6 separate regions of the Homo sapiens genome follow, and regions 1, 2, 3, 5 and 6 are each reported to be linked to region 4. Evidence: microRNA targets listed by miRTarBase, many of them from high-throughput screens and not tested one by one. Region 4 holds a microRNA gene; each other region holds the end of a gene's coding sequence.
Evidence for each region. Region 4 holds the annotated microRNA hsa-miR-4720-5p (CCUGGCAUAUUUGGUAUAACUU, at 2,699-2,720, opposite strand). A microRNA usually pairs through its seed, bases 2 to 8, with sites in the 3' UTR of a target mRNA and lowers its output. Matches are read on the target gene's strand: a 7mer-m8 pairs with bases 2 to 8, a 7mer-A1 pairs with bases 2 to 7 and ends in A, and an 8mer does both.

Region 1 (5,071 bases), not on the chromosome of region 4:
CCATCACCAAGGGCGTGGTCCTGGACAGCACCGAGGCGCTGTGCCTCGCCATCTCTAGGAACTCCGAGCAGATGGCCAGCCACAGCGCAGTGCTGGAGGCCGGCAAAAACCTCTACACGTTCTGCGTGAGCTATGTGGATTCCATCCAGCAAATGAGGAACAAGTTTGCCTTCCGAGAGGCCATCAACAAACTGGAGAATAATCTCCGGGAGCTTCAGATCTGCCCGGCGACAGCAGGCAGTGGTCCAGCGGCCACTCAGGACTTCAGCAAGCTCCTCAGTTCGGTGAAGGAAATCAGTGACATAGTGCAGAGGTAGCAGCAGTCAGGGGTCAGGTGTCAGGCCCGTCGGAGCTGCCTGCAGCACATGCGGGCTCGCCCATACCCGTGACAGTGGCTGACAAGGGACTAGTGAGTCAGCACCTTGGCCCAGGAGCTCTGCGCCAGGCAGAGCTGAGGGCCCTGTGGAGTCCAGCTCTACTACCTACGTTTGCACCGCCTGCCCTCCCGCACCTTCCTCCTCCCCGCTCCGTCTCTGTCCTCGAATTTTATCTGTGGAGTTCCTGCTCCGTGGACTGCAGTCGGCATGCCAGGACCCGCCAGCCCCGCTCCCACCTAGTGCCCCAGACTGAGCTCTCCAGGCCAGGTGGGAACGGCTGATGTGGACTGTCTTTTTCATTTTTTTCTCTCTGGAGCCCCTCCTCCCCCGGCTGGGCCTCCTTCTTCCACTTCTCCAAGAATGGAAGCCTGAACTGAGGCCTTGTGTGTCAGGCCCTCTGCCTGCACTCCCTGGCCTTGCCCGTCGTGTGCTGAAGACATGTTTCAAGAACCGCATTTCGGGAAGGGCATGCACGGGCATGCACACGGCTGGTCACTCTGCCCTCTGCTGCTGCCCGGGGTGGGGTGCACTCGCCATTTCCTCACGTGCAGGACAGCTCTTGATTTGGGTGGAAAACAGGGTGCTAAAGCCAACCAGCCTTTGGGTCCTGGGCAGGTGGGAGCTGAAAAGGATCGAGGCATGGGGCATGTCCTTTCCATCTGTCCACATCCCCAGAGCCCAGCTCTTGCTCTCTTGTGACGTGCACTGTGAATCCTGGCAAGAAAGCTTGAGTCTCAAGGGTGGCAGGTCACTGTCACTGCCGACATCCCTCCCCCAGCAGAATGGAGGCAGGGGACAAGGGAGGCAGTGGCTAGTGGGGTGAACAGCTGGTGCCAAATAGCCCCAGACTGGGCCCAGGCAGGTCTGCAAGGGCCCAGAGTGAACCGTCCTTTCACACATCTGGGTGCCCTGAAAGGGCCCTTCCCCTCCCCCACTCCTCTAAGACAAAGTAGATTCTTACAAGGCCCTTTCCTTTGGAACAAGACAGCCTTCACTTTTCTGAGTTCTTGAAGCATTTCAAAGCCCTGCCTCTGTGTAGCCGCCCTGAGAGAGAATAGAGCTGCCACTGGGCACCTGCGCACAGGTGGGAGGAAAGGGCCTGGCCAGTCCTGGTCCTGGCTGCACTCTTGAACTGGGCGAATGTCTTATTTAATTACCGTGAGTGACATAGCCTCATGTTCTGTGGGGGTCATCAGGGAGGGTTAGGAAAACCACAAACGGAGCCCCTGAAAGCCTCACGTATTTCACAGAGCACGCCTGCCATCTTCTCCCCGAGGCTGCCCCAGGCCGGAGCCCAGATACGGGGGCTGTGACTCTGGGCAGGGACCCGGGGTCTCCTGGACCTTGACAGAGCAGCTAACTCCGAGAGCAGTGGGCAGGTGGCCGCCCCTGAGGCTTCACGCCGGGAGAAGCCACCTTCCCACCCCTTCATACCGCCTCGTGCCAGCAGCCTCGCACAGGCCCTAGCTTTACGCTCATCACCTAAACTTGTACTTTATTTTTCTGATAGAAATGGTTTCCTCTGGATCGTTTTATGCGGTTCTTACAGCACATCACCTCTTTGCCCCCGACGGCTGTGACGCAGCCGGAGGGAGGCACTAGTCACCGACAGCGGCCTTGAAGACAGAGCAAAGCGCCCACCCAGGTCCCCCGACTGCCTGTCTCCATGAGGTACTGGTCCCTTCCTTTTGTTAACGTGATGTGCCACTATATTTTACACGTATCTCTTGGTATGCATCTTTTATAGACGCTCTTTTCTAAGTGGCGTGTGCATAGCGTCCTGCCCTGCCCCCTCGGGGGCCTGTGGTGGCTCCCCCTCTGCTTCTCGGGGTCCAGTGCATTTTGTTTCTGTATATGATTCTCTGTGGTTTTTTTTGAATCCAAATCTGTCCTCTGTAGTATTTTTTAAATAAATCAGTGTTTACATTAGAATTCTTGGCAGATTGCTTCGGCCTGTGATCCTGCCCTGTTGTTCTGAGCCTGTGCGGTGGCGGGGCCGGGATGTAGTGGGTTCTGGTTTCCCGACGGGGCTGGGGCCCGGCATCAGGTCTTACAGAGCAGAACGGTGGCAGGTTGCCCCCAGCTGCCCAGGGCCTCTGCGGCCTGGGTGCCCACAGCCATCTTTCAGGCACTTGCCCTGCTATGCTCGGACCCTTTCTGTACCCTTGGCGCTTACCTGCTGGCAGCCTGGCCCCACCGGCATCACTGGGAGTGGGCTGTGCCACCATACAAGCCACATCTGACTGGCGGTATCAGGCTGTCGCAGCGACGTGGAAGTGGGGTGAGGAGGTCACGTCCCGTGCTTCTTGCTGGCTGAGGGCAAATCCCTCCCCACGTGCGCCTGTTCTCTCTCCACCTTTCCGCCCTAAGCCCCCAGGTGCCCTTACTCACTCATGTTCCTTGAGCCAGGTGTCTTAGGTCTTTGTGTGGATGAGGAGGAGCGGAGGTGTGAGGTGTGCTGGGCCTTCAGGGCCTGGGAAGGCCATCCCAGACTGAGCCCCACCGCCCTTTCCCAGCTCAGTCCCCACCGAGCTGACAGCTTGGAAAGGGGCGGTTGGGAAGTGAGTAGCACCCTCTGATAATGATACTGATCAGGCCAGCAGGTTTGTCAGGGGTGCACATCCTGCTCAGCAGAGCATATGAAGATCACAGCTTGGTGAAGCTCCACTCGAGAGACCTGGAGCGAGACTGCTGTGCGGTGGGTGACAGGTGGAACTCCAGCCGGGCCGGGGCTGGTGGAGCCCACTGCGAGCAGTGCCAGGCACAAGATTCTCCCCCTCTCATTTCACAGGGACAAAACCAGGCTGGGGCCCCCAATTTCCTTGCCGGTTGAACCATAGCTGGCCACCAGATCCACCAAGCCTGGGGCTTCTCTTGTCCTTTGAATGGCTGCTTCTCCCAGGTCTGAACGAAGACATAGGACAACTCTGGTGACAGCCACAGCTGGTGGCCGCTTCCTCGTGTCAGATGTGGACGGTCACCCCGCCCTCCCAGCGCTAAGCGCTGAGACTGCGTGTCCAGAGTCGGCTCCTGCACGTGAGGCCAATTGGTCACACTGGGCCAGTGTGGAGGAAGACGCCTCTCATCTCCCAAATGGGGATCTTTCATGGGTGTCACCTGAGCTTATAGAGCTTAGTTTAGTCTAGCCATTCCAAGACAGTGGTTTCTTAACCTTTTCTAGGTCACAAAACCTCCTGAGAACCTAATGAAAACTGGATCCCAGCCCCAGAAAAATGCACCTGTGTGCACACACCCAGCAGTTTCCAGGTCATTTCAAGTCCTGCCTTCGAGGTCCATTGTTATTATTTACAAAACACCAGCCTAAGGTATTGGACATTTTCTTAAAAGGCCAGGCAAGGTGGCTCATGCCTGTAATCCCAACACTTTGGGAGGCTGAGGTGGGTGGATTGCTTGAGGCCGGGAGTTCAAGACCAGCCTGGGCAACATAGACCCCATCTCACAAAAAATACAAAAATAAGCTGGGTATGGTGGCACCTGTAGTCCAGCTACTCAGGAAGCTGAGGTGGGAGGATTGCTTGAGCCCAGGAGGTGGAGGTTGCAGCAAGCTATGATCGTGCCACTGGATTCCAGCTCCAGAGTGAGACCCTGTCTCAAAAAAAATTTTTTTTTCTTTTTTCTTTTTGAGACAGAGTTTCGCTCTTGTCTCCCAGGCTGGAGTGCAATGGCACAATCTCCGCTCACTGCAACCTCTGCCTCCTGGGTTCAAGCGATTCTCCTGCCTCAGCCTCCCGAGTAGCTGGGACTAGAGGTGCGCACCACCAGACCCGGCTAATTTTTGTATTTTTAGTAGGGACGGAGTTTCACCATGTTGGTCAGGATGGTCTCGATCTCTTGACCTCATGATCCGCCCACCTTGGACTCCCAAAGTGCTTGGATTACAGGCATGAGCCAGTGCGCCCGGCCCACCACTTTTTTTTTTTTTTTTTTTTTAAGACGAGTCTCACACTGTCGCCCAGTCTGTAGTGCAGTGGTGCCATCTCGGCTCACTGCAAGCTCCGCCTCCCAGGTTCATACCATTCTCCTGCCTCAGCCTCCCAAGTAGCTGGGACTACAGGTGCCCGACACCACTCCCGGCTAATTTTTTGTATTTTTAGTAGAGACGGGGTTTCACCATATTAGCCAGGATGGTCTCTATCTCCTGACCTCGAGATCCACCCACCTCAGCCTCCCAAAGTGCTAGGATTACAGGCATGAGCCATCGCACCCGGCCAAGCCCACCACTTTTTTTAATGAGAGAGTTTTTGTTACTGTCCTCCTCTGACAGGTAAGGAAGCTGAGAGGCTCAGAGATGTCAAGCAGCTCGGCCAAGGTCACACAACATGTACCAGCTGGTGCCTACCACGGCAGTCTAATCAGTAGACAGTGCAGACAGCCCCAACAGGACCAGGAGAGAACTGTGCCCAGGGCCGGATTTCTCCCTCCACAGTGGAAGAGAAGCAGCCAAGTATTACAGCCAGCCCAGCTCCTTGGGCCGCAGAGATCATCTCAGGAGGCCTTTCTAAACGGAGTGCCCTGGGGAAGCAAACTCTAAACGTCCTCGTACGAGAAGACATTAGGTGAGACCAGGCTGACCACAGTGTCCCTGTCAGCACTGCCCTCGTCCCTGGGGGTCACCTAATGTCTTGCTCCCCTGCCCCCACACTCCAGTTGATATCACTGCTGTAATCAGGGAA
Region 2 (5,073 bases), not on the chromosome of region 4:
AATTTTAGAGGAAATAAGGAGGGGATTCCCTCTACCCTCAAAACAAACAAACAAACAAAAAACCCCACATTAGAGAAATGTGGAAAAGGGTAGGATATAAGGAAGAACTGTCTAGTTTCTAGAAGTCGTTTAGAAAATTATTCTCACATTATCCATTATTCACTCTAACAGCAAGTAGCATTTACTATAACACTACTTAAAGTTTTAGAAATGCTACTTGTAGAATACATTTCTAGGCATTTTAAATTTGGCACTGAATCTTAGAATATCCAAATACAACCTTCTTTAAAGTCCTAATTTTTCCTGAGTTGATCAACTCATTATATATTGGTTGGGATGTTGCTGCTCCTAATGAGAAACTCATCTCAAACCATCACCTCTTGTTCAGTTTTAGGCAAACTGAAATAAGGTCATTCAGTGCAGGGCTGTGTAGTTATGGTTACTGGTTATTTAAAAGACAGAGAAACAGAGACACAGATGCAGACACACTACTCATTTTATTTTACTTGTCAGATTCCTCTAATAAGCATATAGAGACAGGCCCAAGAGTGGCTTCACAGTAACTATAAAGGCCACAACAGAGATTTTTAAAATGATATATAAATCATAAAAACAAATATTCACACTAACACTTAGTGCCAATTTGCCTATATAAACATAAAGCAACCTAAAAAAAAAAAGTTGCCCAACCAGCAGGCAACACAATCATAACACCCATAACCAAAAAAAAATAAAAATAAAAATCTATTAATCAGTACAATCTAGCCAGCAGAATCAACTCTAAGCAACTACAACACATCGAAAAGGCACAAAGCATTCAATGCAGAAAAGACTGGGTATAAAAGGACACTGTCAAAGAGCTACTGCTCAAAATCTGACATTTCATCACTGATATATGAGAGTGATATGGTAGGAAGAAAACTCAAGCTTATAAACATATTAGTTTAACTGTGTTTTTAATTTGTTTGCAATTATATTGAAAAGCAACCAATGATAATTACTTATTAACCCTTAATTAGCAGTTTAGAGTCACCCTACAAAGATGCTTTGACACTTTTTAAGGTTGATAGAAAATTATTAGTGTACCTATTTCATGACCTGCCATCGCCTAAAAGGAAGTCACCTAATAAAGCACCAATTTAAAACCATATTTTTGCTACTCCTATTCTCCCAGCAATAAATGCCTTAATTACTTAAATGTATGCAAAGACTACTATCTTTACAGTTGGTTAAATCTTGCTGGCATAAGGACCAACCCCTAACCTTAAATGGGATTTTAGGCTGCAAAAAAAATAGGTTGGGTTTCTTACAAAAATAACCTCAACTTGACTTAAAAAAATTCGAAGGCAAAAATTATTTTGATAGTGTAGTGTAAAAAATAGGCTTATTTAGCATTTAGTAGTGTTCTCTAAAAAACATAACATTGTATTAATTAAACTAAGGAAAACAGTATTCTCACTTATAATTGGTTTGTCAGTATGACTATTCCCAGAGTATTTTCTTTTGCTCCTATTTTTATACATATAAACACAATAATCAATCTCAGTATTCAAACTAACAACTTTTTTTTTTTAAAAAAATCCATTATTCTAGGACTTCAACTGTGCTTCTTTGGACAAATAGTTATTCAAGCAAGAAAGAATTTAAAGTCTTTTAAACTATTTAATACCTACTAAAAATCTTTGGTGCATTTAAGTCAAAACCCATTAGATTAACACATTCCTGCACTTGATAAATTATTCAATTTACAGATTAAGTGCTAACTGCTATCTGCTAAAAAATTAATTTAAAACAATAAATTATGCTCACAAAATAAAAAAATTCTGAATGAGGCTAAACTTAGTTGCAAGATTCAAAATTTTAAGTACAGTTACAAAATAAATGGATTAGAGTTATAGAGCATTTGTCCAAAATACTCTAAATCAAATATTACAAAAGGTCAACTGAAAAGAATAGGCCTCCTTTTATACTTTTTGTGCCAACTTTTGTCAAAAGCCTATATACATTCAGTTTGCCCAAATCCATGAGGTTTTCACAATTGTAAAATTTCTTACATTTTTGGAAATTAGAGGCAGCAGATTAGTTTCATTTTGTTTTTGTTGTTGTTGTTTTCAATCATCCACTGAAACTATTACTTCACCAGAATTATATTACGCATCTCCCAGACTAGGTTAAGATTAAATGACAGGATGTAGTACCTGGCACATAGTAAGCATTCATTAATGCTAGCTTTCTTCTTTCCCTACTAGTAGCTCTGCCACCTACTGACCATGTGAGCTTAAATGAGTCCTTTTATCTTAACCTCAAATTCTTTATAAAGTGGGAATATAGCTTGTTTTTACTATTTCAGGGCTGGTTATGAGGTTCAAATGAGATAACATATATGAAAGCATTTTATAAAACAGTAAATCACTACTCAAGTTTAAGTTATCTACAATAGTAACTAAATACAATTATATTATTATATTTCACTTTACTAAGAGATGTATTCCAAAAAAGTTCTGTGTAAACCAATTCCTACAATTAAATCATATATTTAAAGCATTAGGACGGACATTATTATTAAAAGAACCCTAAAGTAAATACCTTCAAAAATCAAAGTATTCTTTTCAATGTGAAAATGCAGTATCTTCTTTTTCTGCCACCAAATGTATAATATACCATATACATACATGTATATAAATATATATATACTATCTGCCTTTTTATAAGTCTAAACTTTTCTACATTAGCTTATATGTAAGGCAGGCTACATTTTTATGTATGATTTCTTTCATTATAGTAAGATTTTTAGTTATAATATTGCCAGTCTTTATGATGAAAATCATAAAGATATGTATTTTTAAAAGTCAATTTGAAAGACTAACAGACTAACAGTACCTCATATAGTCAACCTCAATCATGTAAGTACCCCAGATATAACATTTCCACACAAAGAAATAAGAATACTTTAAAAAGGAGAACATAGTAAGTATGTCCACTAGTCTTAAGACAATTACAACCAAACCTTGACAAATGAGGCTAAACTCAGATTGGTTTTATTATTTATATGAGCTACTTTGGTTAACTGCCTCAGTTTTCAATATTTCTTTTGTTTTACCTCCGCTAGTATGGCGAATGTTGCTGTAAAGTACCTTTATTTCTTAAGTGCTTCAGCGACAGTTTCCGCCATTACTAATTGATTAAACTTTATTCATTAAAACTTCACTGTTTTATTTGTGATTTTTTTTTTCACAAGGGCTGGGCTAGACTTTACAGTTTACACACACAAAAAAAGTGCTTAAAGCAATTAGGAGTGTAAACAAAACTGAAATAGAAAACTTTTAAAACTGCTATTTTCTACTAGTTTATGTACAAATGACATGCTAATAATAAATCAACCCTGTCTAGTCTAATCTTCAAGCAACTCTACTAGGAAACATTATCTTAGTTTTTAGTTAAAATTGACTTGAAAATATGGAAAGTGCATGTCTTTAAAGGTATTTTATAATTTTGACTTTTTCCTCAATTGTAATCACTGAGGTTTTGCTGTAACTGCTATTTCCTTTCACCAAGTCCTCAACTTTTGTCTCATACAGAAATAAAAATTAAAGGTTAATTACAGACATTAGGCTTTTGTGAAGGCAAAATTAAAGATCTGGATTGCATGTAAATCTGTATATAAGTAGTGGTTCCATTTAATTAAACAATGTTAAGTTAAATTAGGCACAAATTTCATAATCTGTTTGGCACCTTTTCTAACAATTGAACACAAAATATCTAGGTTCTGTTTCCCAGAGTTTCTATCAGCCAAGTAAATGAAATCAAAAGTAGCATGTTTAATTAAATTTCATTGAGTTACAACTGCTCTTTTCTTAGTGAGATGAAGACATATGCTATGTTGTATTGTCAACATTTCTGAAATAAATAGTAAAGTACAAAAGGTGAACTTACCTTGAAAAACATCTAGTTAAAACTCTCATATTTTTCTTGTAACACATTTTCAGTTTGTATAATTTAATGCCCAGACCTATGTTTGCCTTTCTTATTCATAACAATTGAAGTATAGGCAAAAACCAATTATCTGGATTATTATTTCAGTCCTACAAATAATAGCTAATCTTACATTAGTTAAGCTTTCTGGCTTTGAGTATATCAAAAGTCCAAAGGATAATGATAACCTAAAATTATGTATGAATGGAAAGACAACACAGAAATATCCAAGGCATTCTTGTAAATTCAAATTCCTAATTTCAATTTTAAAAATTTGTATAACGTAATATTGAATCTTAGGATAAGAAACAGTTGCAATTATCAGTGTACTCTTAATTCCTTCTTAAAGGCTACATGGTCCTCAAACTTGTTTGTAAGAAGGGCTAGGAAGAAGAAGGAGAGGAATGAGACTAAAGAAGAATAAAAATTTCCACTGATGATTAAAAAAAATACTTCCATAATATCAGCAGCTAATAATTGCAAAAAATTTAAGAAACCATTAAAAGTTAGCACTAAATAATCTTTAAAAATCACAAAAATGTGCACTTCAAATATTATGCCAGAAATTTTGTCCAAATATTCATGTTCAGTAAACAGAGACACATAGTTTTCTTGATTTGAAACTGTTCTGAGGACTTGAGAAACTAGAGAAAACAAGAAAATAGCAGCCCCACAAATTTAAAAGCTATCATCTCTACCATTAGCATATAACCATCCAAAAATCTGTGGAATGTTTAGATTTACTCATGAATGATGCTCATTCGTAGAAATATTTTGAACACCAGTAGTGCTATCAAGGCCCAGTAATGTTCCAAGATAAGATTGTTCTCTAGGATCTAGCATTTGTTCAGGTCGAACTGGGTGAACTATATTTGCAGGTTGAGGAGTAAGAGTATATTTTTCCAGAAAAGCTAAATCCGCTGCTCGTGGATAATCAGTTGACTGTGGCTGTGGTGACAGAATCTCATGAGAAGATGGTGGGAGTGTGGTAGTATGACGCACTAGGTCACTCGGAGTGTCAGGCATCTGAACTGGAACCAGAGTTACTGGAACACATACTTCAGCAGATACATTCTGTAACATCGTCTTGGCTTCCGACTG
Region 3 (5,073 bases), not on the chromosome of region 4:
GGCCAGCTCCTTGGCTTTGTGGAGCAGCATGGGCCCCGTCACGTCCCAGGCCTTGGCCCGGGCAATGTGGTACCAGCAGAGCAGAGCCTCGTCGATCCCGCTGTACTTGGACTCCCGCTTGCGCTTGCGCTCTCGGTTGGCTGTGCCGCTGCACCAGTCCGCCAGCAGCTTCTCCTTATTCTTGCAGATGCGCGAGATCTGGGGCTGGGAAACCTGGAAGCGCCGGGCCACCTCCGACTGGGACATCTTGGACTCATCCAGGAGTTCCAGCACCTGGATCTTCTCGGCCAGGGACAGGGCGTGAAGCTTCTTCTTGCTGCTCAGCTCCATGGCCTCTCCGGGGCACCTGTGCGGGGAGGAAAGATTGAGCGGGTAGAGTAATCTGAGGCCGGAAGAGCTAGGAAAGGAGCGCAGGAGGGAAAAGAGATTAGATGAGGACTTGCGCAGGCACCGGGTGAGACTGGACCCGCTGAAAGAGGAAGTGGCTAGGCCGAGTGGAAGCCGGCTGGCCCCGTCCCCAGGATGCCAGGGCAGAGCTGGGGAGGGGGCGTCTCTCCACTCAGAAGGACAGGGGAGTCTGGGCTGGGGTCTGGCCTCACTCGGGAAGAAGGATGAAAAGTGCAGGGGACAGCTGCAGAGATAACAAAGGCATACGGACGGGGGAGGGCCTGGGACTGGGGCCGAGGGGGCAGGTGTGGGGCTACGGGGCTGCGGGGGAGGAGCCCCCGGGAGGGAGTGGGAGGCGGCTTGGGCTGGATTCAGATGACGCCGCTGGGGGGTGGGAGGTGGGTGGATGCACACAGAGTTGAGGTGACAGGTGTACAGACGACAAAGGGGACAGAGGGTGTCTGAAGGAGCGAGGCTAATTTGGTGCCGGGTCCTGAGAGGGAGGCTAGGCGACGGTCAGTCCTGAGGGGAGCGAGAGGGCAGGGCCGAGGGCGCAGGTGCACGAGCGACAAAGGGCGGGAGGCCTGAGGAGGCTGCGGGCAGCGGAGGGGCGGGGTGTCCCCGCGGGGAGGGTGGTGGCCTGGGAGGGTCCCAGGGCGCGGGAACGAACGCCCGGACCCAGGCAGGCCGGCAGCCGGACTCCGTGCCCTGGCCGGTCACTCCCCCTCGACCCGGAGTATGTCGGCGGGGCGGCCCCAGGCGCCCGCCCGCCCGGCCTCCCGCTCCGCACCCACCTCAGGCGCTGGTCCCGCGGCTCCAGCCCCTGCCCCCAGCCCGGCTCCCGAGCCCCTGTCCGGGCGGCGACAGCAGAACAGGGGAGGGATGGGCGCCACGACCCCGAGGGCAGAGCGGACCGAGGGCCTGCGCGGACGGCGGGCGGGCGGGCGCGCGCACAGCAGAGTCCCGTGCGCGCCGCCCGCGCCGGGCTCTCTCCCGGCTGCGAAGTCCGCGGTGCGGCCCCTCTGCACCCACCCGCCGCAGCCCCGCCCCGGCCCAAGCAGATTGGTCCTCAGTGGCGCCCCGTCCCTCCCCCGGCTAAGTTTCATTGGACGTTGCGGAAGTGGCGGTTCGTCGAGCCCCTCTGGGGGCGGGGCTTCTAGCGCGGAGGGGCGGGAGGCGGAGCCAGGAACCAGCAGGACTCCCCTGGGCGCCTCCAGCAGCCGCCGACCCCGAGGGCCCGACGAGCCCTGTAGGTGGTGTGGTGACCGCCGAGCTGACTTGGCGTCCCAAAGCCTCCCTGGCCGTGACCCTAGACCGCATCGGCTTCTTCGTCTACCAAGCAGGGCTAACAGCCCTCACGGAATTGTTTTGGGAAAACGATGAAAGGAGAAAATGGATGCAAGCTTTAAGCCACACAAAAGCTGGTTACCATGGACAGCGCTGGCTCGAGTCTGTCGGCCACGGAAACACTGCATGCTTGGGCCAGTAATGATTTAGGACGAGTATTTTATTAGATTTGGTACTTTACAAGATTCAAGTTCTTAAACTCAAGATCTGGCATCGTTCCCTTCCCTGCTAACCTTCAGTCCCGAATTAAACGCAGACGTCTTGACCCGCAGCCCAGCTGCTCTCCAGCCTCGCTGCTCCCTCCGCTCACAGCTCCGCATCCTCTGCCTTCCTCACAGGCTTCCGTCCGCACCCCCGTCCTACCGGCTGACACTGTCCAACTCTCCAAGACCCATCTCAAATCCTACCTCCCGCAAACCCTTCCTAAATTTCCTCACCTAGGCCTGCTACAGCGTTCTTATTTTCCACATTTCTTTTCTGGCTCTCGGACTACTCAGCTGCCAAAGCGCATCCATTGCTGTACTCCCTCTCTGCCTGGCCTACTTCAGTGGAAAAGCATGAGGACGGGCTGCGCTCTGCTCCTCACACAATCCCCAGCCCAGAGCACCCTGCTTATTTATTGAACATAACAGTGCAGGCCGGCCTAGGCTTCCCATAGGCAAGGATGACTTTCAGAATGTTCTAGAAAAAAGGATACTTCAGGGGGCCCATAACTGCTTGATTCAAATCTTTCCTTTAAAAACATAAAAACAACAGTTGGACTTCTAAAACACACACTGAAGACATACGCGCTGCCACGTAAGCTCTCCACATGTTCACTTTGCCTTCAGGGAAACTGTGTGCACATCAACGTGCCCTGGGAAAGGCTGCAGGGCTGCACTGCGGGCAGTTCAGATCCTAGAGCACTTGCTCTGGCCTGGGAGCGCTGCAGGCAACTGAAGCCACACAGACCCTGCTCCTGCAAGAACTTTTGTGTGTGTCCCATGGTGATGTCATTAGTTTGCTTATTAATTATATTTATATAAACTTCTGGTCCTGTTTTAAATGTCTGAGATTGCAAGGTCAACTGTTATAAACCTGTCATCACTTCCATCTATGTATCCAAGACTAGGAGAATTCTCCAAATCAACTGAAACATAAAAATAGATGTTAAAGTTGATTTTAACCCAAATTTTGTATTGATCAAAACAGCTTCATTGTTCTTTATAACAAAGAATTGTTATAAACTTGAATTTATGTAACAAAACAAAATAACCAATTTTATATTCGCTTTACATATTGGGGTTCCACAAAAAAATTTTAATTTGGGGGGAAAAAAGCTGTATTTCAAAACATTAAAAAAAAAAACCACCATCATGGAAATCTTAGGATGAAATGGCCTTCTTAATGGAGAAAGGCAGGAGATAAACCATCCAGCAGAGGGCTCTGTGTAAAAACATTTATTTTTACTAATGTTTAGAATACAGGAACTAAAGAAAGAAAAAAAAAAGACACCTCAACTCCAAAGCGACAGTGAGTTAGGGCCTGCCCACGGCCAAGGGGGAAGGCTACTCCAGGGTGTCCTGGCATGGACTGTCCCCCCACTACTTAATGTCAGTGCCACTAAGCAGAAAACTTGAGGAATCAGGGTGTGAAGACCTTACCAGCTGCTAGCGAGCGTGCAAGGGAAGAAAGGGATGTCTATGTGGCTTCCCCATGAGCTGAGAGCCAGGATACACGGGGCAGGTGGCAGAGGCTCCCAATTCAGTTAAGAGCAGGAGGCTGAATGCCCAGGTCCAGGAAGAACAAAAAGGGGATTTTGGAGGTAGGCTTTTTTGTTGTGTTAAAAAACAGGCACATTATCCATCTCCTTGTGGCCCCCGAGCTGCTGGCCTGGCCCCCTGATCCTTCCCCTCTCCCCACAAAACCAAAAGGAGTAGGAAGGGAGGCAGAAGATGAGAAATTCCAAGGGTGGGGAATGCTTCAGTCACTGGAGACCGACCGTAAGAGTGAGCCAGGAGAGCAATGGGAATAACAAGGTGAAGCTACTGTTCCCCCTGGGGTGGGGTGGAATGGGACAGGGCAGAACCAGGAGGGTGACCGAGAACATCCTGACTCCAGAAAAGAACACTCTGTAGCAGGAACACAGGGCCGCAGAGAGCCACTCTGGAGGAAAGAGGTGAGGCTATGCGGCACAGGGGCATGAAAAGCTCCTTGTGGACGTGGCCTCAGCTTGCTCGCTCCCAGCTCCCTGGCCTGGCTTGCCTCTAGAGGACAGGAAAACTCTGGAGACCAGAGGGGAGGCAGAACACAGAGAAGTGAGCTGCTCTCCCACTCTTTCTAGGAGGACACTGTTTGAACCCTGTGATCACCAGGGGCTGGGCCCAAGGCAAGCAGAGTGAATGCACTTAATGGAGAGCAGAGAGAAACTGGGCCACACGCACGCCTAGGGGCAGTGTGTTGCTCCTTTCTCCCTGAGGGCCTGGGGCCAGAGGTGGTCAGAGCTGCCACCTCAGCTTGCAGCTGCCAAAGGCAGGCTGGCACAACCACCCCAAGGTTCTCTGGATTTGTGAAGGAGAGGAGGAAGAAGGGAAAGATGGGTATGAAATATGAAGTGGAGGAGAGAAACAGCCTTAGATATGTCGGGGAGCAGGTGGGTGGCCACATCAAGAGGAGTTCTGGTTCTGGTAGATGGAAGCTTTCTCTTTCAACAGGTCCAGACACAGGTGGCAGCTCCAACTTCCTGCAGAGAGGCAAAATGGGGTCAGGATGGGTCCCACACAATCCCCACCTGCTTGCAATTCCTCTGCTCTTGATACCCCATCTCTATAGCAGGATCAGCTACAGGTAGGACGAGGGATGCTCTGCAGCAGGAAAGTTCCATGGTTTCCTGAGCTGGGATAAACCTCTAAGTCTTCAAATATTATGAAATATCATCCTCTATGGAGATGAAAGAAATAATCATCTAGAGGACTTCAGAATACTGATGCCCAGGCCCTCTTGGCCCTATTAAATCAGAAGTTTTGGGAGTAGGAAGAGGGCCTGGGAAGACAGAAGTTTGTCAAGCACCTCAGTTTTAAGACTTGTGTAGTTTCACTAAAAAACACAAAATAATTGTCCCTTATATGAAAAACAATTGGGTCATTCCTTGTTTATTAATATTGACTATGGCTGAATTCTTCTAATTTTTTTTGAATAAAATTAGTCCTTAATGCCTTGAAATGATAAGCAAAATTATACCTATGCGCATTTGGACATTATTCTAGGGCTTTTATCAGCTCTTCAGAAACAGGTGACTCAAAAATGTAAGTCCTTTCTAACCCAAAGGTCAATACGGTTGGCAAAGTTTTCTGTAAAGAG
Region 4 (5,073 bases):
GGGGTCAAGTGATTCTCCTCCCTCAACCTCCCGAGTAGCTGGGATTACAGGGGCCCACCAACACACTCGGCTAATTTTTGTATTTTTAGTAGAGACGGGGTTTCACCATGTTGGCCAGGCTAGTCTTGAACTCCTGACCTCAAGTGATCCACCTGCCTTTGCCTCCCAAAGTGCTGGGATTACAGGCGTGAGCCACTGCACCCGGCCTGAGCAGATCAAAAACAAGGCAAGAGGGGTCAGGACACACAGGCAGAGGCTCGTTCCCTCTCCTTCCAGAGCTGAGAATAAAACTGCAGTAGACTTTCACCAGGGAGGAGGACAAGACAAAACCATGACAACAATCAGGTCCCTTGGTGACGACGTGCCCCATCAGCAAGGCTACCCACCTACGGAGTGGGAAGGTTGCCGTGCCAACCTCCCCTAGGGCAGGAGAAACAACTGGCATATGTTCAAATGATCAATATCCCACCCCCCGCAACAAAACTTTTTTCTGAAATTTCATATAGCAACGTGCTTTCTTGAACCGAGACGTAAGACTTTACATTTAGCCATTACACTATGAAGAGTATTGCAGATCTAACACCCAACACATCTTGCCCAGCACTCTTCTTTGCCTTCTATATTTTTATTCAAGTTATGGATACAAATGTCAAACAGGATGCTGCTAGAGTAGCTCACCTTAAGTGATCTTGCCAAAGATCCGTTCTTGCCAACACTGTCTGAACCTGGCTATTCAGCCGACTTCTCGGTCCTTTGTTAAATCCTACTTCTACTTCCCTTTCTTTCTTTTCTTTTGAGATGGAGTTTAGCCCTTGTTGCCCGGCTGGAGTGCAACGGCACCATCTCGGCTCACCGCAACCTCCGCCTCCTGGGTTCAAGAGATTCTCCTGCCTCAGCCTCCCGAGTAGCTGGGATTACAGACATGTGCCACCATGCCCGGCTAATTTTGTATTTTTAATAGAGACGGGGTTTCTCCACGTTGGTCAGGCTGGTCTCAAACTGCCGACCTCAGGTGATCTGCCCGCCTTGGCCTCCCAAAGTCCTGGGATTACAGGCGTGAGCCACCGCGCCCGGCTGTTCTACTTCCTTTTCACATTCAGAGATCAAGAATGACTTTATCAAATGTCTTATTGAAATCAAGACAAGCTGAGCACATTATATACTCCTACCTCTGCCAGTCTCATAACCTAACCAGGAAAAGAAGTGTATGATACCATAGAAGGATTAAGTAGTTCACTGTTTGTACCACTTTGTTAAATAACCTTCTTTATGCAAAGGTACAAAAGTTCCACACACACAGACACATGCACAAACACACATGCACGTACACACAAGTACTTGTAACACATATTTGTTTGTTTTTAAGTTTCATGTAACATCCAAGTTAAGAAAGCACAGTTAGGTCTACTGGTCTAAAACAGAGATCTAGGAATTATCTCGTTTCTTTGACCAATACAGATTACTACCTTTGCTATTTCAATGAAAAAAAAGGAAAATTCAACTTTAGTAAAGAGTTTTAAGTATTATTAGAGAATTTCACTGGGCAAATTCTAAACAGAGGGTTATTTATAACAAACTCTAAGTATTCTAAACACATATTTTGGGCTGTTTCAGCTATCTAGAATTGTGTTGAATTTAAATACTAGAGATGTAGATGGAGAGAGGTGATATGGGTCTAGAAAGCAAATCATTTTCTGGCTGGATGCTCACACCTGTAATCCCAGCACTTTGGGAGGTTGAGGCAGGCGGATTGCCTGAGCTCAGGAGCTCGAGACCAGCCTGGGCAATATGGTGAAACCACACCTGTTCTAAAAATACAAAAAATTAGCTGGGCATACTGGTGTGCACTTGTAGTCCCAGCTACTTGGCAGGCCGAGGCAGGAGGATCCCTTGAGCCTGGGAGATGGCGCCACTGCACTCCAGCCTGGGTGACGGAGCGAGACTCCATCTCAAAAAAAAAAAAAAAAAAAAGTATTTTATGAACACCAACTTCTAATACATTTACTTGTATATCATGTGGCAGCAGACGTGAGAATGTGGAAAGCTATAAGGCCTGGGACACTCAGTGCAGGCAGCCTTGGCCTCATCCACAGGGCCTCCCACCACCCCATGTTGAGAGGTGACATAATCATGGTGGCAGCAACAGTGGTCACTGCACACAAGGCACTCTCCCAGCTGCTTACAGTCATCACCCAGTTAATCCTCACAACAACCCGCAGAGGTGAGTCCTCCTGCTATTCTTCTTCCACATAAGAAACGGAGCCTTGGGAGCCTTAAGAGCTTCCCAAGTCACAGAGTAGTAAGTGTGGCAGAAGCCCCCAAGCCCAGATGCACCTGCCACCAAGGCCTATGCTCTCAACCACTGGGTTTGTAAGGAAAGTATATAAAGATGATTGCCTGAAAATAATTAAAATAACAAAGTTTGGGGTTTAAGTTAAAGGAATAAGCCTTTGTTCTCATGGAAATCACTTCCAGGAAATGTCTCATGTCCTGAGCTAAGTCAGTCTCATGTCCTGAGCTAAGTCAACAGGGTGCTAACAGATTGTCATTGGAGGAGAAGCTTTGTCATTCTACTATTGAAAGCAAGCCCTTTACTCTGAAAAGCACAAGCATAAAAATTAAATCTTATTAATACACAACGACAGTTAAACTTGGCTATACTTGGTACAACTTAAGCACCAGATTTTACCTGGTGCTTAAGTTATACCAAATATGCCAGGCTTTTAGAAATGGGCATAACTCTTTTGGCCACGGCATCACTGAACTCCTCCATTTAAGTAGAATGTGTACAACTGTGCCCTGAAACTGGGCCATTATTACAAGATCTCCCGAGAGGAAGAGTCTTGCCTACAACTGGTGAGCCTCCTCATCTTCTTCCTCCTGACTTGGTGACCAGGCAAGCTGACAGACACTAGGGAGGATGGAGGCGACCACGTGTGGAGTGCAGAAGGCGCATACCGGAGGAAGGTGAGGGATGTTCCACAGATACATGGAACAAATCACATCATTCATGATTTTCAGTATCATCCAACTCTATATAGTTCTGCCAACCTCAACTCTGCACTGAGGAAACACTTTAAGTGAGGAGGATCTTAGCAATGAGTAGATTTTCATCAAAATTAAAGATTTCTGGGAAACAATAGCACCTTATAAGAAATGAAAAAAATAGTATCCTCAAGCACCCAAATCCCAAATACTGGGTCAGATGACAGATAGACACATTTTCTTGTCTGATGCTAACAAGAATGGAAATCGAGCCCCCTGTTTTACACAGCAGTGGCGTTTAAATAGACTACTTTTCTGCATTATGAAAACAGCCTTTTAAAGACTCTTTAAAGTTCAAGTTGAGTTTCAAGTAATCAGTTTGCAGCAACTCTAGGAGAATTATTATTCCTCCTGGTTGTAAGTGCTTTTTTTTCTTTTCTTTTTTTTTTTTTTTTAAGTAGTAAAATGGAAAACAGGCCTTAGAGAATTGTATTCCTCAAGGCCTCTGACTGCCTGCTTCCAAGCTTTTGTTAAAGAACAGAATGTGTTGAATTCTTCTCAATTGGCAGGGGATCAAGCACAATACTACATAATGAGGTAGCTGAGAACAGAGTTTTTCCTATAAACACAAAGAACAACTGAATAAGTGCATGTAATTCTCATCCAATTAAACAGGAAACATGATAAAGCAAGTTAGTACAGTTGTATTTAAACCAAGTTGACTGGTATAACTTGAAAAAATTTAACCCAAGTTTCTAAGGTATGCCTTATTCATAACTGATGAGTAAAAACAATAAAAATAAGGTACCCAAACCTATTACTTGTAATGAAATGCTAAAAATAAGATCCTAATAAATATAATTCACCAACCAGAAGACAGATGAACCTCCGTTTGGGATGTGAATGATTTGAAATGGCCGTTCATTTACGTGGATCCTATTCAGTGTCTACTCGTTCACTTCATCTTAAGGCCGTGTGTCCCCCGGACTCTGTGTGTTGCCATCCTTTTCCACCTGTTCCTTCTCTAATTCATATCACGACTGTACAATTTCTGGTTTTCTTTCAATGTGTGCACAGAAGGAAGCTCAACAACTTTGTTGAGCCAGGAAGAAATTATTATCAACATTTATAATCAGGCCAAATTTCAGCTGAGTAGTGACTTTAAAAGAATTAGTTTTAATCTCAAAATAAAAAAAAAAAAAGAGGGCAGGCGAGGTGGCTCACACCTGTAATCCAGCACTTTGGGAGGCTGAGGCGGGCGGATCACGAAGTTTAGGAGATCGAGACCATGCTGGCTAACATGGTGAAACCCCGTCTCTACTAAAAACACAAAAAATTCGCCGAGTGTGGTAATAAGCACCTGTAATCCCAGGTACTGGGGAGGCTGAGGCAGGATGATTGCTTGAACCCAGGAGGCGGAGATTGCAGTGAGCCGAGATCGCACCACTGCACTCCAGCCTAGGCGACAGAGCGAGACTCCGTCTCAAAAAAAAAAAAAAAAAAAAAAAAAAAAGAGAGGGCAACAGTCATTTCTGACTAAATAATTATATAATGTAGTTTTATTTATTTGATGTTTAATTTCATGAAAAGGGGAAGGGGTTTAAAAATCCAATCACTTAGAGAATTTCAATGACAGAACTGAAAAAGAACAAACTTTCTACGGAGCGTGGTGGCTCATGCCTGTAGTCCCAGCTGGGTCTCCACATCTGAGGCCAGGAGTTTAAGATCAGCCTGGGCAACAGAGCAAAACCCAGTTTCTAAAAGAAATTTAAAAAAATAAAATAAAATAAAAAAGAATAAACTTTCCTAAACTGTATACATTAGACCAAACCATCTGGAAGTATGATTTAATTCCTCAGATGTCACATAAATGGAACTATTACAATGAGACAATATTGAAATATGTTTAAAATGGAAATAATAATAGGGTTCCTTCTGAAAAACACAAAACTTTACCAAGTTTTACCAGCTAACTTGCAAAAAATATAGAAAATGCCTAGCAGTCAATACCACTGAGACTTAACTGCCAGCAGGCATGACAGACACTCAATCCAAGTCTGTGTTATCAAATATGGGCAAATGGGCCCC
Region 5 (5,073 bases), not on the chromosome of region 4:
GGCTCCCTCTCTCCTAGGACAGCCAGGAAGTGGCTGGACACCCAGGGCCCATGCTGGCGGTGTGACCTGCCACCTCTGTATGTGGTTCCCGGCCCTGGGCCGAGGCTGTCTGGCTGTCTCCATTTCCCAGCCAGTGGAAAGTGACACGGGAAGCCGAGGGCAGCCAGCTGTCCTTCAGTGGCACGGTCAGAAGCTACCTGTGTCACCAGCAGGAGGGTGGCAGCAGTGTCCCTGGGGCCACGTGCCTTGTTACACTGGGGCTTCGGTCCCTGTAGCAGGGTAGCTGGTGGGCAGCGTCTGCAGCCCCACATTTCCGCTCCCCGCCTCCTTTTCTGAGAGGTGGTCCCTGGACATCCCCACATCCTCACCTGCTCTGCCAGCCTCATAGCTAAGACTCTTTCTGCACTGGTAATGCCAAGGCTGGTCTGGAGCTCAGGCCTCTCCGTCATGCTAGGCTACGAAGCAGGCACCTCAGACTCCCTGAACCTGCCCCCTGGCTTGATCGTTTCTGCCGGGCACTCCCCATGCCAGTGAGAGGCCTGGTTCTAACGTGCTCTGTGCCAACTGAACGTGTGACCCTCCCAGCAGGCGCTGAGGCCAGATCCCCTCAGGGTCCTGATGAGTGTGGCGCCATCTGCCTTACAGCTCCGTGTCCGCAGCCTGCCCGGAGAGGACCTGAGGGCCCGTGTTAGCTACAGGCTGCTGGGGGTCATCTCACTGCTGCACCTGGTGCTGTCCATGGGGCTGCAGCTGTACGGTTTCAGGCAGCGGCAGCGAGCCAGGAAGGAGTGGAGGCTGCACCGCGGCCTGTCTCACCGCAGGTGCGTGCGGGGGCCACACATGGGGGCTGGGGGTGTCCTGGGCACTTCACAAGGACCTGTAAGGTGCACCCACCTTGACGCTCTGCCCCACCTTCCCCAGGGCCTCCTTGGAGGAGAGAGCCGTTTCCAGAAACCCCCTGTGCACCCTGTGCCTGGAGGAGCGCAGGCACCCAACAGCCACGCCCTGCGGCCACCTGTTCTGCTGGGAGTGCATCACCGCGTGGTGCAGCAGCAAGGTGAGGTGGGAGCCTGCTGCCGTCCTGGGGTGGTCAGCGGCTGTGCCGGCAAGATGCACCTGGCTGCAGCAGAAGTGGGGAGTCTGGCTCTGAGCACCCTCCAGTTTTGAGGGTACAGAGGTGGGCATCTTTTTAAAGGCTCCCAGGTAGGTCAGATGTGGGTTCGTTGAGGGGGTTAAAGTTCCAAATTCACGTGTATTGAGGCTTTGCCGAATGCAGGTTGGGGTAGTGGCCAGCCCTGAAAGGCCCCACGCTTGCACCACGCATCCCAGCACACCCTTCCTCCCGGGGTCCTCACCACACTTGAAAACCCTAGCACACTGACTCACACCCACCGAAGATGCCGGCAGGGTGAGAGCGCACGCTTTCCCAGGAGCTGGGCTTCGTGGGCTGTGTCAGCTGCGGGAGCAGGAGGGAACCTCCCGGCCGAGCCCCACACCCTGAGCCCTACGCCCCCAGCCCCGCCCCAGCCCCCACTGGGACTCGGCCTTCTGAAAAAAGGCTGGCTTTCTTGGTCATTAGTTGAAGGAAATACAACATTTATGTTGTGTGTCATGTGCAGAGAATGTGGACAGGAAAAGAAATGCCGATGGGGATGGGCATGGCCCAGTGGCCCCAGCTGCTGTGACCCCCTTTCTCCTCTCCGCAGGCGGAGTGTCCCCTCTGCCGGGAGAAGTTCCCTCCCCAGAAGCTCATCTACCTTCGGCACTACCGCTGAGCCGGCGCCCGGGTGGGCCTGGACACAGATGACCTCTACGGGAGTCTGAACGCCAAGATTTAGTCTCAGGATTAACCTTGCTTGCACAGAAGTTAGAACACTCTCAGTTTTTTGTCATGTAAGATACTAACCTAGCCACCCTGGGAGAGAACAGAAAGCTGTCCCTGGCTGCGCTTTCTCAGCCCTGGGAGGGGCGCCTGAACCCAGAACATTTCCCTAACCCCAACCTGGTAGGACTCAGCCACTTCTTCAGGAATTTCACTTATTTGGACGGGATTTTAGGTTTCCCTCCCTTCCCCAAACCATACAGTTGAGAAGTAATTCAGAAGTAGGCCAGAAGACACTTTATTCGTTTATATTGTGAGAAAACAGCCCCATCAGGCTTGTGTTAAGGCAATGGACTGAATGAGTGCGTGCTGGGTGGGGTGGGGCACGGAGGCTGGCGGGTTGCTTCAGCCAGTGCAGTGAGAACAGCAGCCCCACGGCCCCATGGGAGGCGGCGCTGCTCTCCCCGAGGGCGGCTGGGCAGAGCACATCCCCCAGGACTTGATGACCACACGGGGCAGAGAGAAACCAACCAAGGCCAGCACCTCCGTCGGAAGCATTTGGCACACACACCTTCAATACACGTCAAGGTCGCTTCCAGTTTTAGAAAACAGAAATCTGCATCTCAGCCTGAGACGCACAGAGAGGTCTCTTCCTGACCCAGACGCACTCACGAGCCAGGTCCTGGGGGTATGGGGGCTGCCAGGGGCGCCCGAGCCCTCTCCTGGGGGGCCTGCTGGGCAGGCGACCTGCTGACCCACGGTCACTGCTGTGTTCAGCCCCTCAGCTCGGCCCCAGCCTATTTCCCGCCTCCATTTGATGTTTCCAGGTTTTCAAAACTGCATTTAACCTGCGCCAGAGAGTTCACCGTAGGCATCTTTAATAAACTAACTCCAGCAAAATGTGGGTACGTTACTAACACAAGATGGAACTTGAGATTTCCTGAAGCGCAGTGTTAAAATGCCTCGAGGGCGTGTGCCACATTTCCCTGCTGACGTAAAACACCTGGCCAGCAGGACCGGCTTCCGGCAAAGACCCGCGCAAACCATGTCTTGCTGTTTGACTTACTTAGGAATGAGGATGACCCTGTATTCCTGGGTTAGTCAAGGTCAGCTTGCCAGAGACGGAGGAGGGCGGGGGGGCCGTGACCCTCTAGACTGGGAGGACCACCAGGAGAGGCACTGGGGGCTGCGGCCGGGTGGGCAGATGCCGCCGTGGCTCCATCCATCAGCACCCAGTCCTTTGCTTCACTGTGCTCTGGCCAAGCGCGTGCGACTTCCTGTCACACCTTAGGCCTGAGCGCTTATTAAGAAAACAGTATGAAAAATGACAAACACTCCTGTCCACAGTCTGAGAATCCCAAGTGTCTCAACACGGTACCAGAAGTACCACCTGGGAGCAGCACTGGCTATCTTGGGTCAGGGACACACAAGCTTGAACGTGGCCTCTTAGAGGAGCTCGATGTCAGATATGTAAACACTGGTACAAGAAAATCCAGACACTAAGCATTCACCGTGTCAATTCTGAGACAGGAAACACCGCCCAGAGTGAGGAGCCTGCGCAGCCCGGGGCCCAGGAGGAGAGGCCTTCACTCGCATGTCAGTGTCTCATCTGGGACCACAGCTGTGATGTTCTGCTGTGCAATATGGGTCACCTTTCGAAAAGGCCAAACAAAAGGTGGGCTTTCCTGTGTCCAGCGACTGCCATGTTTTAGGTAAAGACTTTAGTAAAGGTGGAGGTAAAATCACTTGGTAAAACGTTGAGAGTATTTCTTTTCTCGAATCAAAAACGCTGACATGCAAGTGGGTTCCGCCTCTCCCGCAGTGGGGGGCCGAGTGCTGAACCTACAAAGCCAGTCTGCTCCCTGCCAGCTTCGCTGCCCCTCATGGAGGGTTGCATGAGGACAGATTTAAATTAAAAACAAAACACTCTACGTATCAAAGAAATGTGTCAAAATAATCTCAAACAATTAAAATATAATATATATTTATAATTCCGGGCCCTCAAAAGCAATCATGGTAGTTAAGAACCAAGTTTTGAGTCATTAGGATAGAGGCCAACTTTAAACATCTCCAGTGAGATGGAATTAGGAAACTGGCATTAGAACCCCACACAGTTACTTGACAATCACCTTTAAAACGTTAAGTTCTTTCGGACACGCAGGAATCAGGCTAGATCATCCCTCGGGCTCTGTGGAGTGGCTGGCACCACCTGCGGCTGCTGGGGAAGGCGGCTGGCGGGGAGCGGCCCGTTCCTCCCTCGCAGGCCTTGCTCCTGCCTGCCCACCTGGCACAGCGGGGACCGGCCACTCGCCCTTGCTCCCATGGGCTCCACCCGCCTGGCTTCCCGCCTGCAGCTGACTAGAATTCCATCCGTGAGAAACACTTGAACGTCACTGAAAAAGAAATCCATGCGATTTGGTTTAAGCGCCAGTTTCTTCTAGAACCTGATATTTCAGTTACAAATCATTGAAGCTCCTTTTTAAAAAGAAAATTTGACTCCCTCGTAATCAACTACTTTATGTGAAGAAAAAAGGCATTGTTAACAATGGCTCAAAACTGTTCTTGCAACACGTGAGGCAGCCTCAGTCCCGCTTCTAGCTGGCGAAGGCCTTGCCGGCATCCTCCTTGCCTCTGTACCTTCTCTTCCCATGTGTGAACGGGATGTACCGGTACTTAATCATGTGCTGGGGAGAGAAACACAGACTCAGTTACTGCACAACCGCTCTCCAGTCAGTCACACTGTCCCCAAATCTGAGCGGCCAAAGGTCCCCCATCTTTTCTATACATCAGACAAGTGGAATCGGAGCCCCAGTGGCTTCCTGCGCCCACATCAACACAGCAAGACCTTCCACAGCCCACGAGGCCTAGGTTTGAAACCCCATCAATCCCAGTGCTTCGTGAGCCTCCCGTGGAGGAAGGGCAAGGGGGATGTGAGGTGGCCCAGGGCCCTCTCTGCAGCCAACACCCCGGGCACAGAGTGAGGCCCGCAGCACGAAGGCCACACCGTCAAGGGCACAGTCCGCAGTCTCGGCTAACTTCCCCCTAACACCCTCCTCCTCGGGCAGGCTGGCGCGGGGCACTGGGCACCCTAAGAGGAGCCACCGGGACACTGCACTCGCCGGGGCTCTCCCACCCGGCTTCCACAAAGTTTCCACCAAGAGCCCGCCCGCTCCCACAGCTGCGCTCCCCGTTTAGTTAGCCGGCCGTGCTGGGAACGGAGCAGTGTCCTCGTCACACACAAGACGGTGCCA
Region 6 (5,073 bases), not on the chromosome of region 4:
ACTTACAATGTCTGTAATACTTTTATTATGAAAAGATTCTTTCCAAAATTTCAGATAAAACGAATGCCTCTAGATGACCAATTGCTATCTTTTGATGAGTTACTACCACACACCAGTGCCTACTCCTAAGTATGTATACTCCTTGAGAAGTGTGGGCTTAAGTGAGCTCAATTATTCTGACACTGTTGTTACTTCTAAGTAGCACACAAAGAGATTCCATCCTAATGTTTCAATCCTAATAGGGAAATGTAAGATTTAATCACAAAACACTATACATACAAATAGTAAACGCATAACAGCATAAAATTACAAATATTGGAGATTATCCCTGGAAAGGGAAAGATGAAGGGGTGGTAACTAGGGGGTAGGAAGTCTTTAGCTGCATTTGTTTTATTCCTGAAATGAGAGGAAAAAAGATCTGAAGCGAATATGACAAAATGCCAACATGTGCTAAACCTAGGTGTTGGTTACACGTCATTATTTCATGGAATAAGCAAAAGCTACATATAAAGGTCTCTTCTTCCCTGCCCCAGGATTGCTGGTTGTTAAATATTTACCAGCACACCACTAAGTATAGTGGTTGACTGAGGTTTTGGATCTAAAGATCTGAGCCTAACTCTGATCAAATAACAAGCTTCAGTATTCAATGAATATATAACCTTTAGTAAGTTGTTCAAGAACTCAGTAACTTACTTTCCCCATCAATACAACTCCATAGAGTTATAAGAATTAAATAGCCTGATATGTGAGTGCTTAAGATGCAAAATAGCTTCTAATATAAATACCATAAGACATATACAGCAGTTACCTGACATTAACTGATAAACTGGGAATACATCCAAAGACCTTTGCCAATCCCAAATTCACAAATACTATGAAGGTATATTTATTTCCCCCATAAAAATGAAATCCATCATTCATTAGCTCTCTTCATATCCTCTTTAAACGTACTGATACTTGGAGTTGTTTTCAGGAATATTTTTGACCAAAGATATATTTGCATATGTGTATTTATAAATCTATTTGGTCCTCAAGTTCAGATGGTAATAGTTCCACTAGTGAGGAGCTGTTGAGTTACTCAAACCTAACTGGTTTTTGAGTTTCAGATTCTGAATAGGTAACAATTCTAATTTTGATAGTGAAAAATTTAACTGAAAATTTATCCAAATCTTTTCAATTTCTGAGTCTGAAATGGAAGAGACACAAATATACAGATTCATTTTAAAAATAAATTTATGAGAGTTCCTATGCAGGAAACACATTAACAGAGACCAATAAAGCCATACATTGGTCAGTATGTTATAACTGGACCCAGCAGACATGAGTATGAAGCAGCATGTGCCAGCCCAGCACAAAACTCAGCAAAATGCAGCCATCAAATACTTGGAAAAAGTGGATATGAATACAGCGTTAACAAAGAGCTTCATGTGGAGGGGGATAGGATAATGGGTTTAAGAAACAACTAGATCCCTATACCACTCTGCATAGGACTGTCCCTTCCTCTTAGAAGTCTCAAAAAATGTAACTCCTATGCCCACTTTGTTCTCAAAAAGCTATTTCACATGAATGGAGTAAATCTAAGATGTGAGAGATAGCAAATGGGGAACAGGGAATCCAACACAGGAGAGACAATCCCCAGGATCATGGTAAAGGAGATCCCAGGATTACAGCTGTACACCAGCCATAGAAGGCACAAAGTCCAACTTGGACAAAGCAGATTGCTCTAGGAGTGATTTTTTAAAAGATGAAAGAAACTGATGGAATCATTGTTACGTTTGAACATATAGAGAAGATATTCATACATATGGTAGAAATCTATGCAGTCAATTAACTAAAGGAAATAAGAAATTAGTATATGGTAAGGATAATACATCACTCAGCTGTATACAGCAGTTACATAATCTCAATAATGTACACATATCCTTAGTGTAATCACAGTCAACAATGTAAACATTGAATTGTTATGTTGGGAGGAGAAAAGGGGATAAAAAGGGAATGTGTAATGCTGGGAAGCAGAAGAGGGAAGCTTTATTTTGAAAATCAAAGAAACAATGCCTAAAATTAAAAAATCAAGTAAAAGCAATATAAGCATGTCATTTGGAGACATGGTAATAAATAACAAAAAAAATAACATCTAAAAGAGTTGAAAGGGCTTGCCCTGGAGACAGGAAATGGAAGAAGTCAGAGTAATGGCCTTTTTCCTTAGGAAAAAAATCTTACAGATCTATCCAATTTTTTAAAGCTGTGTACACATGAAACTTTGATTAAAAGTAATAGAAAAACTAAAAACTAAAAAACACAAATCCAACACAGTGTCAGGCTCATAGAAATTCCATAATAAATGTTCATTTTTTTATTATTATAATGACAAGACAAAGTTTTTCATATCACCATTACACTCATGCTAGGGATAACAATACTTCCTCTATTATAAATGCTACTTGACCTTTATTTACTATGCTTGGCATAACTGGGCATGCTTAATAAAATAAAAAAAAAAAACATTCAAATTTTTTTCTTTTACTAATCGAAGTACCTAATTTTATACAATTTGCACACTTTTAATGTTAGTAACAGAAACAATGAAATTATTTTACTTCTTGATACTTAAGAGTTTAACTCCAAGACATGCACTACAACCACATAATAGATTTTTGTCATCAATATGATGGTCCTGGCATCTTATATATTAAGTTCACACTTTAAATTAAGTACTACTTGCTAAAACGAAAACAGGTAAAAACAATGAACAGACGGTTCACGTTAAGAGGAATACGAAAAGCCAATAACAATACTGACATAACAATCTTATTTGTAATGAAAGAAATACAAATTTTAAAAATGACATACCATTTTTTAATTACATTGGCAAAAATTAAACCAAAAAGAATACCTACAATTGACCAAGGAGTATTCTGGCAGGGGGAGGGAAGTCACATACATATAGTACTAATTAGAGGGGTAAATTGTATAATTAAAGCCCTATGAACCAGTCAAACCAATCATTCCACTTTTAGAAACTTTCTCAAGGACATAATTAAGCATGTAACTCAAAATGTACAAGGACATTCACTCTGCCACTGCTTGTAGTAATAAACTGCAGATAATCAAAATGTCTAACACAGAAAAAAGTGAGTAAATTATGGTAAACCTTTCTTATGGGAAGGCAGTGGGCTTCCAATTCCATTCTTCACACCTAGCTTAGCTTCTTTCTTTTCAACAGAGTCTACTTCTAACAGAGACCAAAAATGTCAGACATTGCCTTTCTCTGTAACCTGATCTAAGTCAATGGAAACTGAGGGGAAATCTTCTGGAGGCTTTTGTTAAAAATCTTCCTCATGGATAAAACAAATGAGAGACGAAATGGCCTTTTCTGCCTTTGAGATACAATTTTACAAAGATGTAAAACTGGAAGTTATAGCAGCAGCTCTTGTGATCGAGAGGTGGAATAGCCTAAGGCAAAACAAACCAACTGAGGTCAAGGCAAAAAAAGTGTGTCTTTAATGACACCCCTGAACCCTGTGTTATGTCAAACAATTTCCTAGGTTACTTAGGCCAATTATATTTGGACACTGTTACCTCTGGCCAAAAGCATCCTAACTTGTATTAGCTATACAACAGAGTACATTAGAACCACAAAAAGTTATGTTACAGAGGTATATTTATGAACAGTAGATGTGCAGTTAAAAAGAATTTACAAAACAGTACGTTTCCATGTTTTTAAAAAAATCAAATATGTCAATATGGATTCATTTGCCAAGAAAAAGGTCTGAAAAGATACTCAAGGTTTTAAGAGTAGTTATCTTTGAAAGATAGCATTTAAATGTTTCCTTTTGCTTATGTGCATTTTCTATTTTTTTCTACAGTTAGCATGTATCACTTTAAGATTCCGCCATCCTTCCTATCAATTCAATGCAATTTAGGAAAGAAAGAGGTAAACATGTATTCCAGTGAGCTATCTTGAACCAGAAGTCTGCTTTTTTTTTTTAATTGGAAAAGTTTCTGTTCTTTAAAAAAACTTTCGTGAAATAAAATTTGATACTAAACAAGCATTTATTTTTCAGTGAATACGGAAGATCACAAACAGTTTTCATTTCCCTTTGTTACTCAGGGAATCATCATGACTTTGTACCATTTCGTATTGGAATTTCTTCTGTGAAGCAAAAACAGTCCCAAAATGAAGGATCTTCAGGTGTCATGGGAACGGCAGATGACATTAAATCATTAAAGTTGAGAATAGTAAATTGCCTCTGGGTTGGTTTGGAATCATCCTGAGATGGAACCTAAAAGACAAAAGCAGATTACCTTATTGTTATATTGCATGTTAATCTTATGATCAATTTCATAATCATGAAAATAAGTAAGACCAACTTACATTTCAGTAGTATTAAATGACAACATAGGATTCCTAGAACATTGTTTGTATTTCTTATATTAGTGTTGCCAATACAACAAATCAAAAAAAAATGAAATAGAAAACCTGATTCTTGAACTTTTTTATATAACAAAAACCTGTGGTATTTTACATGTAGATTTACTGGGCCCCACATCCAAAAAGTGTGATTTACTACATATCAGTTAGAAGGGATATCAAAATCTGTAATTTTAACGAGCAGTCAGGTTATTTTGATAGAGGTGAGTGAGAAAGTGAACTTTTGTGAAATACTACTCTAAAAGGTGGGTCTGATAAAACTGCCATAACTATACAGAGATGTATACTTCTTTAGGAAATTATTTATTCAATATTAAATTTAAACTGTATCTTACTCTCTGAGATAGAGCCCTTGTTCACAATTGAACCCAGTGCAGACCCTCTTTAATATTCTACACATCTAGTATAAATAGTACTTGGGTTTTGTATAGCGCTTTAACAAGTCAAGGTCCAGTACTTATATGACTGGTCTCATAGCTATGTTGTGATACGGTTATCTTAATTTTATGGATGGGGAATCTGAGGCTCAGGAAGAGCAAACAATTCAAACAATTTGTCCAAGCTCAAAACATAGGTTAAATGGTAGATGTGGGCCTAGAACCCAATTTTGTGAATTGTACTCTAGTCTTCCCAACATGCCA

Region 1: the mRNA of ABL1 is a reported target of hsa-miR-4720-5p. Seed matches in the 3' UTR shown: 7mer-m8 at 585-591.
Region 2: miRTarBase lists ZBTB41 as a target of hsa-miR-4720-5p. Seed matches in the 3' UTR shown: 7mer-m8 at 1,240-1,246.
Region 3: the mRNA of DPF2 is a reported target of hsa-miR-4720-5p. Seed matches in the 3' UTR shown: 7mer-m8 at 3,297-3,303 and 8mer at 1,941-1,948.
Region 5: miRTarBase lists RER1 as a target of hsa-miR-4720-5p. Seed matches in the 3' UTR shown: 7mer-m8 at 3,915-3,921.
Region 6: miRTarBase lists AASDHPPT as a target of hsa-miR-4720-5p. Seed matches in the 3' UTR shown: 7mer-A1 at 2,915-2,921 and 7mer-m8 at 2,675-2,681.

The regions. Positions count from the first base shown.
Region 1 is chr9:130,885,367-130,890,437 of GRCh38, forward strand. ABL1 (ABL proto-oncogene 1, non-receptor tyrosine kinase) reads left to right here. Exons shown (of 11, transcript NM_005157.6): 11 at 1-2,309. The coding sequence ends at 317. Among named protein-coding and RNA genes, the nearest start is that of QRFP, 8.9 kb to the right of the region's middle. RefSeq lists a silencer at 3,156-3,450.
Region 2 is chr1:197,154,643-197,159,715 of GRCh38, forward strand. It overlaps ZBTB41 (zinc finger and BTB domain containing 41), which reads right to left. Exons shown (of 11, transcript NM_194314.3): 11 at 1-5,073. The coding sequence ends at 4,717. Among named protein-coding and RNA genes, the nearest start is that of ASPM, 11 kb to the left of the region's middle.
Region 3 is chr11:65,351,066-65,356,138 of GRCh38, reverse strand. It overlaps DPF2 (double PHD fingers 2), which reads right to left. Exons shown (of 11, transcript NM_006268.5): 11 at 1,877-4,456. The coding sequence ends at 4,380. It overlaps TIGD3 (tigger transposable element derived 3), which reads right to left and starts at 1,388. Exons shown (of 2, transcript NM_145719.3): 1 at 1,182-1,388; 2 at 1-346. The coding sequence starts at 330. RefSeq lists silencers at 681-870, 931-1,100, 1,111-1,170, 1,191-1,510, 1,601-1,660.
Region 4 is chr16:81,382,668-81,387,740 of GRCh38, reverse strand. MIR4720 (microRNA 4720) reads right to left here and starts at 2,723; the gene lies at 2,648-2,723. GAN (gigaxonin) reads right to left here. Exons shown (of 11, transcript NM_022041.4): 11 at 1-5,073. RefSeq lists a silencer at 673-867.
Region 5 is chr1:2,402,468-2,407,540 of GRCh38, reverse strand. It overlaps RER1 (retention in endoplasmic reticulum sorting receptor 1), which reads right to left. Exons shown (of 7, transcript NM_007033.5): 7 at 2,105-4,506. The coding sequence ends at 4,417. It overlaps PEX10 (peroxisomal biogenesis factor 10), which reads left to right. Exons shown (of 6, transcript NM_002617.4): 4 at 646-821; 5 at 922-1,057; 6 at 1,707-3,567. The coding sequence ends at 1,775. Among named protein-coding and RNA genes, the nearest start is that of PEX10, 7.6 kb to the left of the region's middle.
Region 6 is chr11:106,095,953-106,101,025 of GRCh38, reverse strand. It overlaps AASDHPPT (aminoadipate-semialdehyde dehydrogenase-phosphopantetheinyl transferase), which reads right to left. Exons shown (of 6, transcript NM_015423.3): 6 at 2,331-4,283. The coding sequence ends at 4,119. Among named protein-coding and RNA genes, the nearest start is that of AASDHPPT, 21 kb to the right of the region's middle.